3 separate regions of the Homo sapiens genome follow, and all the other regions are linked to region 1. Evidence: fine-mapped expression QTL. A gene starts in region 1. Each other region holds a variant in brackets. All regions are shown on one strand. Distances are from middle to middle.

Region 1 (4,149 bases):
TCTGAAGGGTGAGGCTGGGCATCCAGGGTGACACAGCCCAGGGAAAGACATGGGGGTGACGTGAGAGGTGCCTGGAGGGAGCTGGCAGGTATGGACATGATGGACACGGAAGCACGGAGGCGGGCAAGTGGCCAGACGCATCTAGGGGAAGGTGTGGGGGAGGCGCCCTTAGGAAGGGCCCTGAAGGGCTGTGGGCAGCAGGGAGCCCTGGGAGGCCTAAAGCAGAGGGCAGATAGATGAGGGCTGTTGTCTCAGGTGTGGGGCGGACGAGGTGGGGAGCCCTCACCCAACAGGAGGCGAGCTGGTCCTGTGTGGCCTGAACTGCAGCTGTCTCCTCTGTGAAACGGGGGTATAGCTGACCCCAGGGGGCTGCCTGGAGCATCCCGGGAGGTGCCAGGCCCAATAGTGCTCTGGGAAGGACAGGGCCCTGGGCTGTTGTGGGAGGCGGCAGATCCTGGTACTCACATCCTCCTCCTTGGGGAGGGCCTGATGGTTGGCTGAGGCCTGGGTGGAGAGCAGAGGGTTGGTTCTGACAGGGTTGGGCTGGCCAGAGCTGGTGCTGGGGCTGCTGCTGGGGGCCCGTGCCTCTCTGCCGTGGGGTGCCTGGGGCTGTGACCTCATGCTCTGTGGCCTGCAGGGCAAGTGACACGGATCTGGGCAGCCAGGGTGGCAGGATCGGACTGGACCCCTTGGCAGGGCCGCTGTGGAGACAGCCCAGGGGAAGGGGTGCAGGGGTCTGGACACTCCAATGGCCTTGCTCTCGGGCTGGCCTGGGCAGCGGAGGGAAGGAGAACCCTTCTCTGATACTAGATGGTGCCTGGGAGAAATCAAGGCAGAGGGTCCTAGCCGGTGGGCTCTTTGGAGGTTGTGGCTCCTGTCCGGGTGAGAGCCACCATATATTGGGGCCTAACGTGTTCCCTGGCGCTGTGAGTCCAGGCTGCCTTGGGACTCAGGAGGGTGGAGCCCACCCCACCTTCCAAGGGCCCTGGCCATCCCTGCCTGCCGACCACCCCACTCCTGGGAGCCTGCTTCCCTCACGGCGGCGGGCAGGCCGTGGCGGTCCCCACGAGGGCCTCCTCTCCAGGGCCGGCTGGGCAGGGAGCCCCGAGGCCTGCAGCCCCCTGACTGCCCTCCGATGTACTGGCGGCAGAAAAGGGCTGCGCCCCACGTGCGCCCTTCGGGGCGCGCAGTCCGCCCAGTGCTCCCCACGGCCGCGGCCATTCCAAGGACCTGCAACGCCGCCTCTCCCACTCCGCTCTCTGGGAAGCCAAAGCCTCCCGGGCTCCGCTTCCGCACCGCCCCTCGGGAAGACGGCGCGACCGCGCCCCCGGCACGCCCCGCCCCCGGCAGGCACTGACCACGCCCTCTCCCGGCCATGCAGAGACCCCGGCCCATGTTTCTCAACTCGTCTTCTCGCTTCCGGCCCCGCCCCGCGCCGGAGGCCCCGCCCCACGCTCTTTACCTCTTCTGCTCGAGGCGGGCCCCGCCTTACTCCCTGGTCCCCGCCCCACGCCCGAGGCCCCGCCCCGAGCTCTTCACCTCGTCTTCTCGCTTCCGGCCCCGCCCACGCCCCGGCCCCGCCCCGCGCTCCTCACCTGTCCCCTCGCTGTCGGCCCCGCCCCACGCTCCTCACTTTATCCTCGCGCTTTCAGCCCCGCCCCGCGCCTGAAGCCCCGCCCCACACCCTTTACCTCGTCCCCGCGCTGCCGGCCCCGCCCCGTGTTGAGGCCCCGCCCCGCGCTCTCACCTCGTCCCCGCGCCCCGGCCCCGCCCCCGCACTTCCGGACGCCGCCGGCGGGGGCGCTCGGGCCTGGGCTTCGGCGCTCTGGCTCGGGCTCTGGCTCGGGAGGCGATCGTGGCCGCTGCCGCCGCCAGAGCCGGCCGGAGTCGGCCCGGAGCCGCGTCCACGCGGAGCGGGCGGGTGGGAGCTGGCGGCTGGGCCCCTGCGGCGCCCCCGCGGCCTGCCCCGCGTCCGCCTCCGGGCCGCCGAGCCGCAGCCGCCGAGATGGGGGCCGCCCCGGGCCGCGCCCCCGCCGGGTCCCGCCCGCCGCGCTGCCGCTGAGCGCATGGGCCCGGACCGCGCCGCGCCGCTCCGGGAGCCGGGCCCGGGGTCCCGCCACCACCGCGCGCGGGTGAGTAGGGCCGGGCTCCGGGGCGGGCTAGGCCGCGGTAGGCCGGGCGGGCGGGACCCGGAAGCGGCGGGGGGCGCGGGTGGCTGACGCGCGTGGGACCGAGGGGGTGGGCGCGCGGGGAGCTGGGGCCGGGGTGTCCCTGGGCAGCGGGACTGGCGGCGCGGTGGCCGCTTGGAGGTCCGAGGCCTCGGGCGCGTCTCGGGGCACGGAGCAGCTGCAGGGGCCGCGCATCGCGTGCGGGGGCCCGGGAGAGCCGGGCCTGGAGCCCTCCCCGCCGCCCAGAAGTCGGCGGGAGTCCGGCTGTCCCGGAGGAGGACACTCCCGCCCGCCCTCGCCGAGGCCGCGTGCCGGGTCCGGGTCGGGGTTCGGCCTGAGTAGCCGCGTGCTCCGGCGTCCGTACCCTCCAGGTTGATGCCTTGCTGCCCAAACACTGGTCTTTCTCTTGGGTGTGGTTCTTAGATTCTACCCCCGCCCCGCACTTTGGAATTTAGCCCCCGTGAAACCAGAGCTGCACTGCCCGAGCAGTGAAACTTTCAGCTTGGCATTGAAGAAAGTAGAGAAAAACATGTCAGTTCTCTGGGGATTTTTCTCAGCCCATCTATAAGATATATATATATATATTTTTTGTAGAGATGGGGTGTCACTATATTGCCCAGCAGGTGTTGAATTCTTGGCCTCAAGCGATCCACCTGCCTCAGCCTTCCAAGGTGTTGGGACTACAGGGGTGACCACCGTCCTCTAAGATAATTTTTTTTTTTTGAGACGGAGTCTCGCACTGTAGCCCAGGCTGGAGTGCAGTGGCGCTATCTTGGCTCACTGCAACCTCCGCCTCCCGGGTTCAAGCAGTTTTCCTGCCTCAGCCGCCTGAGTAGCTGGGATAACAGGCATGCGCCACCACATCCGGCTAATTTTTGTATTTTTAGTAGAGACAGGGTTTCACCATGTTGACCAGGCTGGCCTGGAACTCCTGACCTCAGGTGATCTGCCCACTTTGGCCTACCAAAGTGTTGGGATTACAGGCGTGAGCCACCGCGCCTGGCCCCTTCTAAGATAATTTATAAAGGGTTCTTATGTGCATGTCAGCCCCTTGTTTTTGCTCACACTTCTGTTCTCTGCTTCTTCAGGAAGAATCTCGAGCTTACTTGGATCCACAGGCCCTATTTTGGAGAAAACACAGTCTAAACCGGCTACCCGAGATACTCAGCAATAGCTCGGTTTCAGTTTTTTTTTTTTTTTGAGACAGAGTTTTGCTCTTGTTGCCCAGGCTGGAGTCCAATGGCGTGATCTCCGCTCACCGCATCCTCCGCCTCCCAGGTTCAAGCGATTCTCCTGCCTCAGCCTTCCCAAGTAGCTGGGATTATAGGCATGCGCCACCAAGCCTGACTAATTTTGTATTTTTAGTAGAGATGGGGTTTCTGTATGTGGGTCAGGATGGTCTTGAACTCCCGACCTCAGGTGATCCGCCCACCTCGGCCTCCCAAAGTGCTGGGATTACAGGCGTGAGCCACCTCACCTGGCTTTGGTTTCAGTTTTAAGATCTCCATTCAGGGACAAGGATGGGAAAGCATGAAAAACAGACTGTTTTTGTTTGATTTTCAGCTGGTGTTGACTTGTCTTGGGTTTCTAGTTTCAGAAAAGCTAAGCAGACTTTTTCGGATTACATTGGTCATTGAGAATTTCAGTGATGGGGGAATAAATTACATGTGAAATAGTAGCCCTGAACCTTCAAGAGTTAAATCAATGGACAGCTGGGAAGATGTCAGAGTCGTGTTGTGTTACTTGCCTCCTCCATGTAAATCAAAATGTCAAAAGTTACGTTTGGGTAAAATAAATACCTACACACGTAGGTAGCATTGAGTTTGCTGCCATGATGCCTGGAGCATATGCCTAAGCGGTGACGAAAGGGAATTTTAAATACAGTATCATACTTGTAGGCATCCCGCCCGTTTTATGGACTCACTTTATTGATGGTAGCTACAGGCTGTGGGCCAGATTCAGTGCTTGCAGGCATTTGATA
Region 2 (4,149 bases), 480 kb before region 1:
GACTGCAGACACAGGGCCATGCGGGGCCGGGAGCGCCTCCTCCTGGGATCCCTGCAGCCCCTGCCCTACACTCCCAGGCTCAGGGGCCTCCTCCTGGCCCCGCCGTCCCAGGCTCAGGGCCTTCCTCCCGGATATTTCTTCTGGAGCCTGACCCATGGGCTTTCCTGCATCTTCTTTAAAGATAAAATCGAAAACAAATCTTTAAAGGCCATCTCCAAAAACCACAGAGGCCGGAACAAAGTAAAAATAAAGCTTCCTCTCAGGAGCTTCCTGCTTATCTAAAAACGCCTGTGTCAGCAGCACCTTCTAGCCCAGAGGGGTCCCTGGGGCCCCAGCCTCTGGCAGGGGCCGGACCCAAGGCCACGTGACCCACGGCAGAAGGTGCCGGGCCCTGGCGTGCGGTGCCACGGGACGGGGACAGTGACCAGCCCTGCGGCTCAACGTCAGTGTCCGCGTGTGTGGAGTCTCCTGCTCAAGGGAAAAATGCCCTTCAGTCCTACGAGGAGGCAGCAAGGTGGCTAAACAGTGCCTCCGACCACTCAAATATCAAAAAGCTGCCTTGCCTGGAAACAGGGTCCTTGCCGACGTCATTGAGATGCGGTCATACCGGATCAAGACGGACCCTAAATCCAAAGTCAGAAGACACGGCCATGACGACCAAGGCAGAGGCTGGAGTTATGAGGCCACAGCTAAGGCAAAGCTGAGCGCCAGGGGCTGGAAGAGGCAGGAAGGCTGTCCCGTCCCCCTGGGGACCCTCCGTGGCGCAGGCCCGGCAGTCCCCGATCTCAGGCTCCTGCAGCCTCGTTCCACAAGCCGGGCTGGGCTCCGGCGCATCCAGGAGCAGGTTCCCCTCCTCCCTGTGGTCAAGGCTCCAAGCCTGCCTCCTTCGCTCCTTCCCTTCCCAGAGTCTCACCTACCTCGGAAAAGAGGAGGTGGCCTGAGACCGGCTCTGCCGACAAGACCGGCCTGGGTGTTTTGAAAGCAGATATCCGTGAACGTTTTTAATCCGTAGGTGGACGGTACCAAACCCCAGTATGGACCGTGCGTGGGCACTGAGCATTTCATGACAGAAGGAGACGCCGGCCGGGAAACGCAGTGAACCAAACGCCATCCCGCCCGAGGCCACAACGCCCACAGCACCACCCACAACACCTCCCACAACACCACTCCTGGGTACACGTCCAGGCACCACAAAAACCTCTGTCCAACAAGAGCCGGTGCATGGACAACCACAGCATCTCACGCACTGCGCCCAGCAGCCCAGCAGCCCAGCAGCCCAGCAGCCCAGCGTCCACTCACAGACGAGCCACGAACCACATGCAGGCCAGCAGCCCAGCAGCCTGGCATCCACTCACAGATGAGCCACAAACCACACACAGGCTGGCCACACACAGAGCGCCACTCAGCCACAAGAAGGAAGGAGGCCCCAGCACACACCACACCGGGATGAAACCTGAGGCAGGACCTCGAGCGACGGAGGCTCAGAGGGACACAGTGTCTGATCCCATTTCTACGAAACATCCAGAACAGGCCAAGCCAGAGAGTCGTGGAGGCTCTCAGGCTTGGGAAAGGGTGGTGAGCCAGTGCTGATGGAGACAGGGTTTCCTTTTGGGGTGATGAGGACATTCAGGACTAGAGAGAGGTGAGGGCCGCCTGACACTGCAATGTGCTGAACGCCGCCCAAGCGTGCACTTTAAAATCAGTTAACACCGGCCGGGGGTGGTGGCTCACACCTGTCATCCCAGTGCTGTGGGAGGCCGAAGGAGATGGATCACCTGAGGTCAGGAGTTCGAGACCAACCTGGCCAACATGGCAAAACCCCATCTCTACTAAAAATACAAAAAAAGTTAGCCGGGCGTGGTGGCGGGCACCTGTAATCCCAGCCACTCGGGAGGCTGAGGCAGGAGAATTGCGTGAACCCAGGAGGTGGAGGTTGCAGTGAGCTGAGATCGGACCACCGCACTCCAGCCTGGGCGACAGAGGGAGACTCTGCCTCAAAATAATAAATAAAATAAAATAAACTTGGCCCCATGGAAACTGTTTTTCTTTCCTAATGATGGGGGGAGGGAGAAGGCTTTTCCATTCCCCAACCTCCCACATCACCCCACACAGAAGCCAGAGGCCCGGGGCCCCTCGAATCTCTCTGAGAGCACCTCGTAGAGACTCCGGGGAGGCCCGGCCTCCTCACACAGCAGCAGGAGGCACCTCTGATCAGCAGCAATGCAAACAGCACTGCCCACTCCACAGCCCACCTGCCCACTTCTTCCCAGCCAACAGGATCCAGGCCTTCCCAGGTGCGTGCCCGGGTGTGTGCCCGGGTGTGGGGCAGCCCCATCTCAGGTCAGTGTCGGAGTGAGAATGGGCAAAGGACGTGCCGGGCTGGTAGTGGTGAAGGGACACAAGACACAGGAAGGAC[G/A]TCTGTCCCTGGCCGCCGTGGGTGGGATGTGGGCCCCAGTGGGCGGGATGTGGGCCCCAGTGGGCGGGATGTGGGCCCCAGTGGGCGGGATGTCGGTCCCAGTGGGCGGGATGTGGGCCCCAGTGGGCAGTGGCGGTGCTGGTATAGACAGGGCCGCGCCTCTTCACCCCGTCCTCACCCCAGCGGCCCCGGAGCAGCAGGCGGACTCAGAGCTCCTGGGAAGGGGCTGTCGGCTGATGCAGGAGGAAGACAGAACTGCCACCCGTGGCTGGGTAGGAACGGAGGGACAGGACCCCACCCGCCATCAGGGGCCTGCTCATAACACAGTCCCACGGACCCCACCCAGAGAGCAGAGGACCTTCCCAGAGGGCATGGGGCTGCCACAGTGATGGCCCCCAGACTCCCAGGTCAGGGGCCTTCCCATTGTCGGCCGCCCAGAGGCTCCCGGTCCACTCCCCCCATTCCCCACTCTAGCTCACAGAGCCCGAGGATAGAGAGAGTCCTGAGTGCCCCTCAGGCCTCGGTCTTCCCACCCAAAGCGGCTCCCGTGCTCCACGTCAAACCTCCCCTCCCGAGGTGCCCCTGCCCACACGCCACCCTGCACCAGTGGGGTCAGAGCCTCCAGGAGACGAGGCCTCGGCCCAGCGTCCCTCCCTGCCTCCTGCCTCCAACCTCAGGCCTGAAACACAAACCCTGGGTCCATTTCATCGCACAAGTCTCAGTGTTTGAATCCAGCTTTACAACAACCCTGTTGTAGGCAGGTGTCTGCTTTTGAACAAACTGTTGGTTCAGGTCCCCAGTGCCCTGGGCGCGTAAATCTCAGCACATTTAATGCACCTGGCTTCCAGCCTCTGGCAGGATTTCGGGATGCGTGAGTGACTCGTCTGACCTGGGTCCAGGCACGGAGGCCCCAGCCATACCCTGGAGGCCGAGAGTTCATTTCCCCTGGCTAGGACTGGGCCAGACCCCTGCCTGGCTGCCCGCGCCCCAGGCCTGAGCTGGGCTGTTCCCCGGGCCTGGGACAGACACCCTTCCAGGTCCTGTCTGCTGCAAGGTTCCTGGAGCACATTCTCCCAGGACACAGTGGGGCAAAGAGAGAAACAGCAGGGTCCCCCCAGGACGCACGTCCGGGCTCCAGTCGTCACGTGTGTGGCATGAGGGGAGGGGTGTGTTCCTGTGCCTGGCAGCGAGTGTCTGTGTATGCGCGTGTATTGTGTGTGTGTTGTGTCTGCACACATGTTGTGCGTGCATTGCGTGCCGTTGCAGCCATGACATAAGGTGACACGTGCAGCTTCCACAGCTACCCTGAGACCTCCAGCACAACCCGGCAGCAGAGGCCGGCCCGTTTCCCGAGGCCTTCATCACAACCCAGGCAGCAGAGGCCGGCCCGTTTTCCGTGGCCCGTTTTCCGTCCTGTGTCTCGGTTTCCTTGTTTGTGCAACAGGGACCCTCCCAGAATCCCTGGGGTGACTCCGGGGAGCGTAGTGACAAGCAGGTCCGTGAAATCCCTGGGCACAGTGACTGGCACCTCCCGAGTGCAGCCCAAGGGCAGGGGTTCCACCAGAACCAGCTCTGCAACCACTGGGAGACCAACCTGCACGGAAGACCACAGCCTGCAAGGGGCCGCCCAAGAATCAGGCGGCGAAACCCATGAGACAGACTCGGGGAGCGGAGCAGAGGTGCTTCAGAAAACAGACGCGAAGCCAGGTCTGAGGCCTGGAAGCGACGGGGTC
Region 3 (4,149 bases), 58 kb after region 1:
GACCTAAGTCACCTGGGAAGGCCCCCACTGACCATCACTCCCGAGGTGCCCACGGAGGAGCCTTCTGTGCTCACACCTGGCCGTCCTGCTGAGGGCTGGGGAAGGCTCTTGTGTAGCGTGAGCACTTCTCTCCTCCCAGAAGGGCAGAGGCCTCGTGTGTGGTGTGGAGCAAGGCCCCGGCGCCACAGGTCCAGCCCCTGCCGCTGCCCGCCGGGCCGGTCTTGGTGTTGCTCCTGCTCGCCCCCTGGGCCTGCACTCGTGCCCGGAACCCAGCAGGAGGGCCAGGGGCCCCACAGAGGTGGTACCCCCCACCTTCCTGTCGTGGTCAGAGGCAGGTCAGCTGGGAAGTGTTGGCCCTGGTGGGTGGATGGCCCCAGCTTCCTCAGACTTAGGTCCTGATCTGCCCCCCACCCTCACCCAGGCCCTGGCCAGGACGCATCTCCCTCCACATTACTTGATGAGAACTTGTGAGGCAGCTGAGCGCCTGGGGCGTGGCCCTCCTGCCTGTGTTGGAAGCCTGTCCCGCAAGGCCTTGGGGTCCCCATCGGTGCTGACTGAGGTGGGGACGGGCTCATCGTTTTTCTGGGGCTCCCGAGGGAACAGGGGTGCACAGCACCTTGCCTGGCTCATTTTTTGTAGAGGGGGTCTCAGTGTGTTGCCCAGCTGGGTCTCAAGCTTTTGGGCTCAAGTGATCCTCCCACCTTGGCCTCCCAAAATGCTGGGACTACAGGCATGAGCCACCATTCCTGGCCTTCGAGTCTTTTTTTTTGAGACGGAGTCTAGCTCTGTCGCCCGGGCTGGAGTGCAGTGGTGCAATCTTGGCTAACTGCAACCTCCACCTCCTGGGTTCAAGCAATTCTCCTGCCTCAGCCTCCCGAGTAGCTGGGATTACAGGCGTGAGCCACCACGCCCGGCTGATTTTTGTATTTTTAGTAGAGACCGGGGCAGGGGGTGGTTGCCATGTTAGGCTGATCTCGAACTCCCAACCTTTGGTGATCCGCCTGCCTCGGCCTCCTGGAGTGCTAGGATTACAGGCGTGAGCCACCGTGCCCGGCCGAATCCTTTTTTTAAATAGCTGTATATACTAAATATTGCATGTCCCATATTTTAGGATAAGTATTAATACATTCCACTTTGAGACATACTTATACTTTTTATTCATTAAGACTTTTTTTTTAATTTTTTGCGACAGAGTCTCCCTCTGTCACCCTGGCTGAAGTGCAGTGGTGTAATCACACCGTTCACTGCAGTCTCAGCCTCCTGGACTCAAAGCTATCCGCCGGCCTCTAGGATTAGTATATAATTTGTATCCCAGTAAAGCTGTTAAAAATAAAATGTAAAAAAAGAAGCCTCATCCCAGCACTTTGGGAGGCCGAGGCAGGTGGATCGCTTGAGGTCCGGAGTTCGAGACCAGACTGGCCAACATGACAAAAACTCCATCTCTACTAAAAAAAATACAAAAAATTAGCCGTGTGTGGTGGCGAGTGCCAGTAATCCCAGCTACTCGGTGGCTGAGGCAGGAGAGTCGCTTGAACCTGGGAGGCGGAGATTGCAGTGAGCCGAGATCCGAGGTCGAGCCATTGCACTGCAGCCTGGGCAACAAGAGCAAAACTCTGTCTCAAAAAAAGAAAAAAAAAAAGTCTCCATGAAAGAATTTTTTTTTTTTTTTTTTGAGACGGAGTCTTGCTCTGTTGCCCAGGCTGGAGTGCAGTGGCCTGATCTCAGCTCACTGCAAGCCTCGCCTCCCGGGTTCATGCCATTCTCCTGCCTCAGCCTCAAGAGCAGCTGGGACTGCAGGCGCCCGCCACCACGCCCGGCTAATTTTTTGTATTTTTTTAGTAGAGGTGGGGTTTCACCGTGTTAGCCAGGACGGTCTCGATCTCTTGACCTCGTGATCCGCCCTCCTCAGCCTCCCAAAGTGCTGGGATTACAGGCGTGAGCCACCGCGCCTGGCCTTTTTTTTTTTTTTTTTTTTTTTTTGAGATGGGGTTTCGCTCCTGTGGCTCAGGCTGGAGTGCAACAGGCCAGTGTCAACGCACTGCAACCTCCACCTCCCAGGTTCAAGTGGTTCTCCTGTCTAACCCACCTGAGTAGCTGGGATTACAGGCACCCACTATTATGCCCAGTTAACTTTTTGTATTTTTGTAGAAACAGGGTTTCACCATGTTGGCCAGGCTGGTCTTGAACTCCTGACCTCAGATGATCCACCCGCCTCGGCCTCCCAGCGTGCTGGGATTACCGCGCCTGGCCATTTTTTTTTTTTTTTTTTTTTTTT[G/TG]AGATGGAGTCTCACTCTTGCCTAGGCTGGAGTGCAGTGGTGCAATCTCAGCTCACCGCAACCTCTGCCTCCCAGGTTCAAGCGATTCTCCTGCCTCAGCCTCCCGAGTAACTAGAATTACTGGTATCCACCACCACACTTGGGTAATTTTTTGTATTTTTTGAGTAGAGTCATGGTTTTGCCATGTTGGCCAGGCTGTTCTTGAACTCCTGACCTCAGGCGATCCACCCACCTTGGCCTCCCAGAGTATTGGGATTACAGGCAAATGAGGGTTGGTTTTTTGTTGTCTTTTTTATTCCTGAGACTGAGCCTCACTCTGTCACCCAGGCTGGAGTGCGGTGGCGTGATCCCGGCTCACTGTAACCTCCACTTCCCCAGTTCCAGCCATTCTCGGGCCCCAGCCTCCAGAGTAGCAGGGATGACAGGCGCCCAGCTAATTTTGTATATTTAGTAGCGATGAGGTTTCACCATGTTAGGTTGATCTCGAACTCCCGACCTCTGGTGATCTGCCCGCCTCGGCCTCCCGAAATGCTGGGATTACAGGTGTGAGCCACCATGCCTGGCCGGGATGTTTTTATTGTGTGGTCTGTGGAGGACGTCCATGTGGCTTGGTGGCCAGGCCCCAGTGCCCCATCCCATCCTATCCCTCAAGGAGGCTGCCCTTGTGAGATGAGTGTAGCCCCACCAGGCCACCTGGCCAGGGTGTCGGCCACAGTCACAACTTGTTCTCTTGTTCCCCAAGGTCTTCGGGGACGAGGAAGCCACAGCCCCATGAGAACTCCAGACCCTTGTCCCTTGAGCACCCCTGGGCCGGCCCTCAGCTCCGGACCTCCGTGCAGCCCTCCCACCTCTTCATCCAAGACCCCACCATGCCACCCCACCCAGCTCCCAACCCCCTAACCCAGCTGGAGGAGGCGCGCCGACGTCTGGAGGAGGAAGAAAAGAGAGCCAGCCGAGCACCCTCCAAGCAGAGGTACGGCCGCGTCGTGGGGTGGGGTGGGTCTTGGGGGTTACCACAGCACCACTCCTGGGGCTGAAGCTCCCCGAGGCCTGAGGTCTTCAGGGGAAAAACGGCCCTCTGGGTGTCCCCCAGCCATACTGGGCCCTTCCATCCACTGAGAACCACTGAGGGGCCACGTGGCAGGCCACCCTGCGGTGGACGGAGGCTGGGGCTGGAGCTTTCACACACCCGAGGCCGCCGCGCTCATTGCTCTGGAGGCGGGGTCCCTCCTCAACCTGAGCCCAGTCTGCAGGGAGGCTGCAGGGCCCCAGTGTGTGGGGAACGCCGGTCCCCAGCCAGAGGCTGCTCGCTGCTGGGCAGCCTGGGCTTTAGGGCAGAGGTCCTGGAGGCATGGCGGCTGCCTCTTGACAGTTGCGTCCCAGGAGCCCTGAGTGGCTCTGCACGGTCGGAAAGCTACGTGGTTCTGAAAGCCGTGCAGATGTAGAAGTGTCGTCCTGGACGTCCAGCCCACAGCCCTCCTCGCTGTGTCCTCTTGTCATCCTGGATGTCCAGCCCACAGCCCTCCTCACTGTGCCCTTCTCTCATCCGGGACGTCCAGCCCACAGCCCTCCTCACTGCGCCCTCCTTGGTCTTCTGGGCTCCGTAGCCAGACCCTGTTCTCTCCCTAGGGCAGGGAGGCTTCTGTCTGGGCTGCAGGGAGGTCTCCCCTTTGTGTGGGCAGCATTTTCGCTCCAGGCCAGAACCTGGCTTCTCCATTTTCAGCTTGCTCATAAGGCCAGTTTTCTCGGCCATCCTGGGTCATTGGAATTCCCCACAGATCAGTGTCTCTTTGAGGGTCCTGGGAGCCTATAGCTCACCCAGGCCCTGGGGCTGTGGTCACAGAGGCCATGGTTGCCTTCAGAGGTCACCAGCT

Which allele goes with the higher level. Alleles are on the strand shown, and positions count from the first base shown. SD is a standard deviation of normalised expression in the study named. Not every link is listed here.
For the expression in NK cells of the gene that starts at base 1,778 in region 1, allele TG in region 3 goes with a lower level than allele G (moderate effect, 0.47 SD a copy in Gilchrist 2021).

Evidence for each region. PIP is the estimated chance that this variant, and not a neighbour inherited with it, causes the effect. A credible set is the group of variants that fine-mapping cannot tell apart.
Region 2: its variant is the best candidate, but not a certain one, in a credible set for the expression of AXIN1 in hypothalamus (GTEx, PIP 0.63).
Region 3: its variant is the best candidate, but not a certain one, in a credible set for the expression of AXIN1 in NK cells (Gilchrist 2021, PIP 0.63).

Annotation. Positions count from the first base shown.
Region 1 is chr16:350,352-354,500 of GRCh38, reverse strand. AXIN1 (axin 1) reads left to right here and starts at 1,778. Exons shown (of 11, transcript NM_003502.4): 1 at 1,778-2,132. RefSeq lists silencers at 1,110-1,369, 1,410-1,889, 1,990-2,069, 2,350-2,399, 2,420-2,489 and 1 more.
Region 2 is chr16:827,301-831,449 of GRCh38, reverse strand. No RefSeq gene overlaps it. Among named protein-coding and RNA genes, the nearest start is that of GNG13, 29 kb to the right of the region's middle. The variant G/A (reference allele first, on the strand shown) is at 2,417.
Region 3 is chr16:292,587-296,735 of GRCh38, reverse strand. AXIN1 (axin 1) reads left to right here. Exons shown (of 11, transcript NM_003502.4): 8 at 3,018-3,248. Among named protein-coding and RNA genes, the nearest start is that of PDIA2, 11 kb to the right of the region's middle. The variant G/TG (reference allele first, on the strand shown) is at 2,276.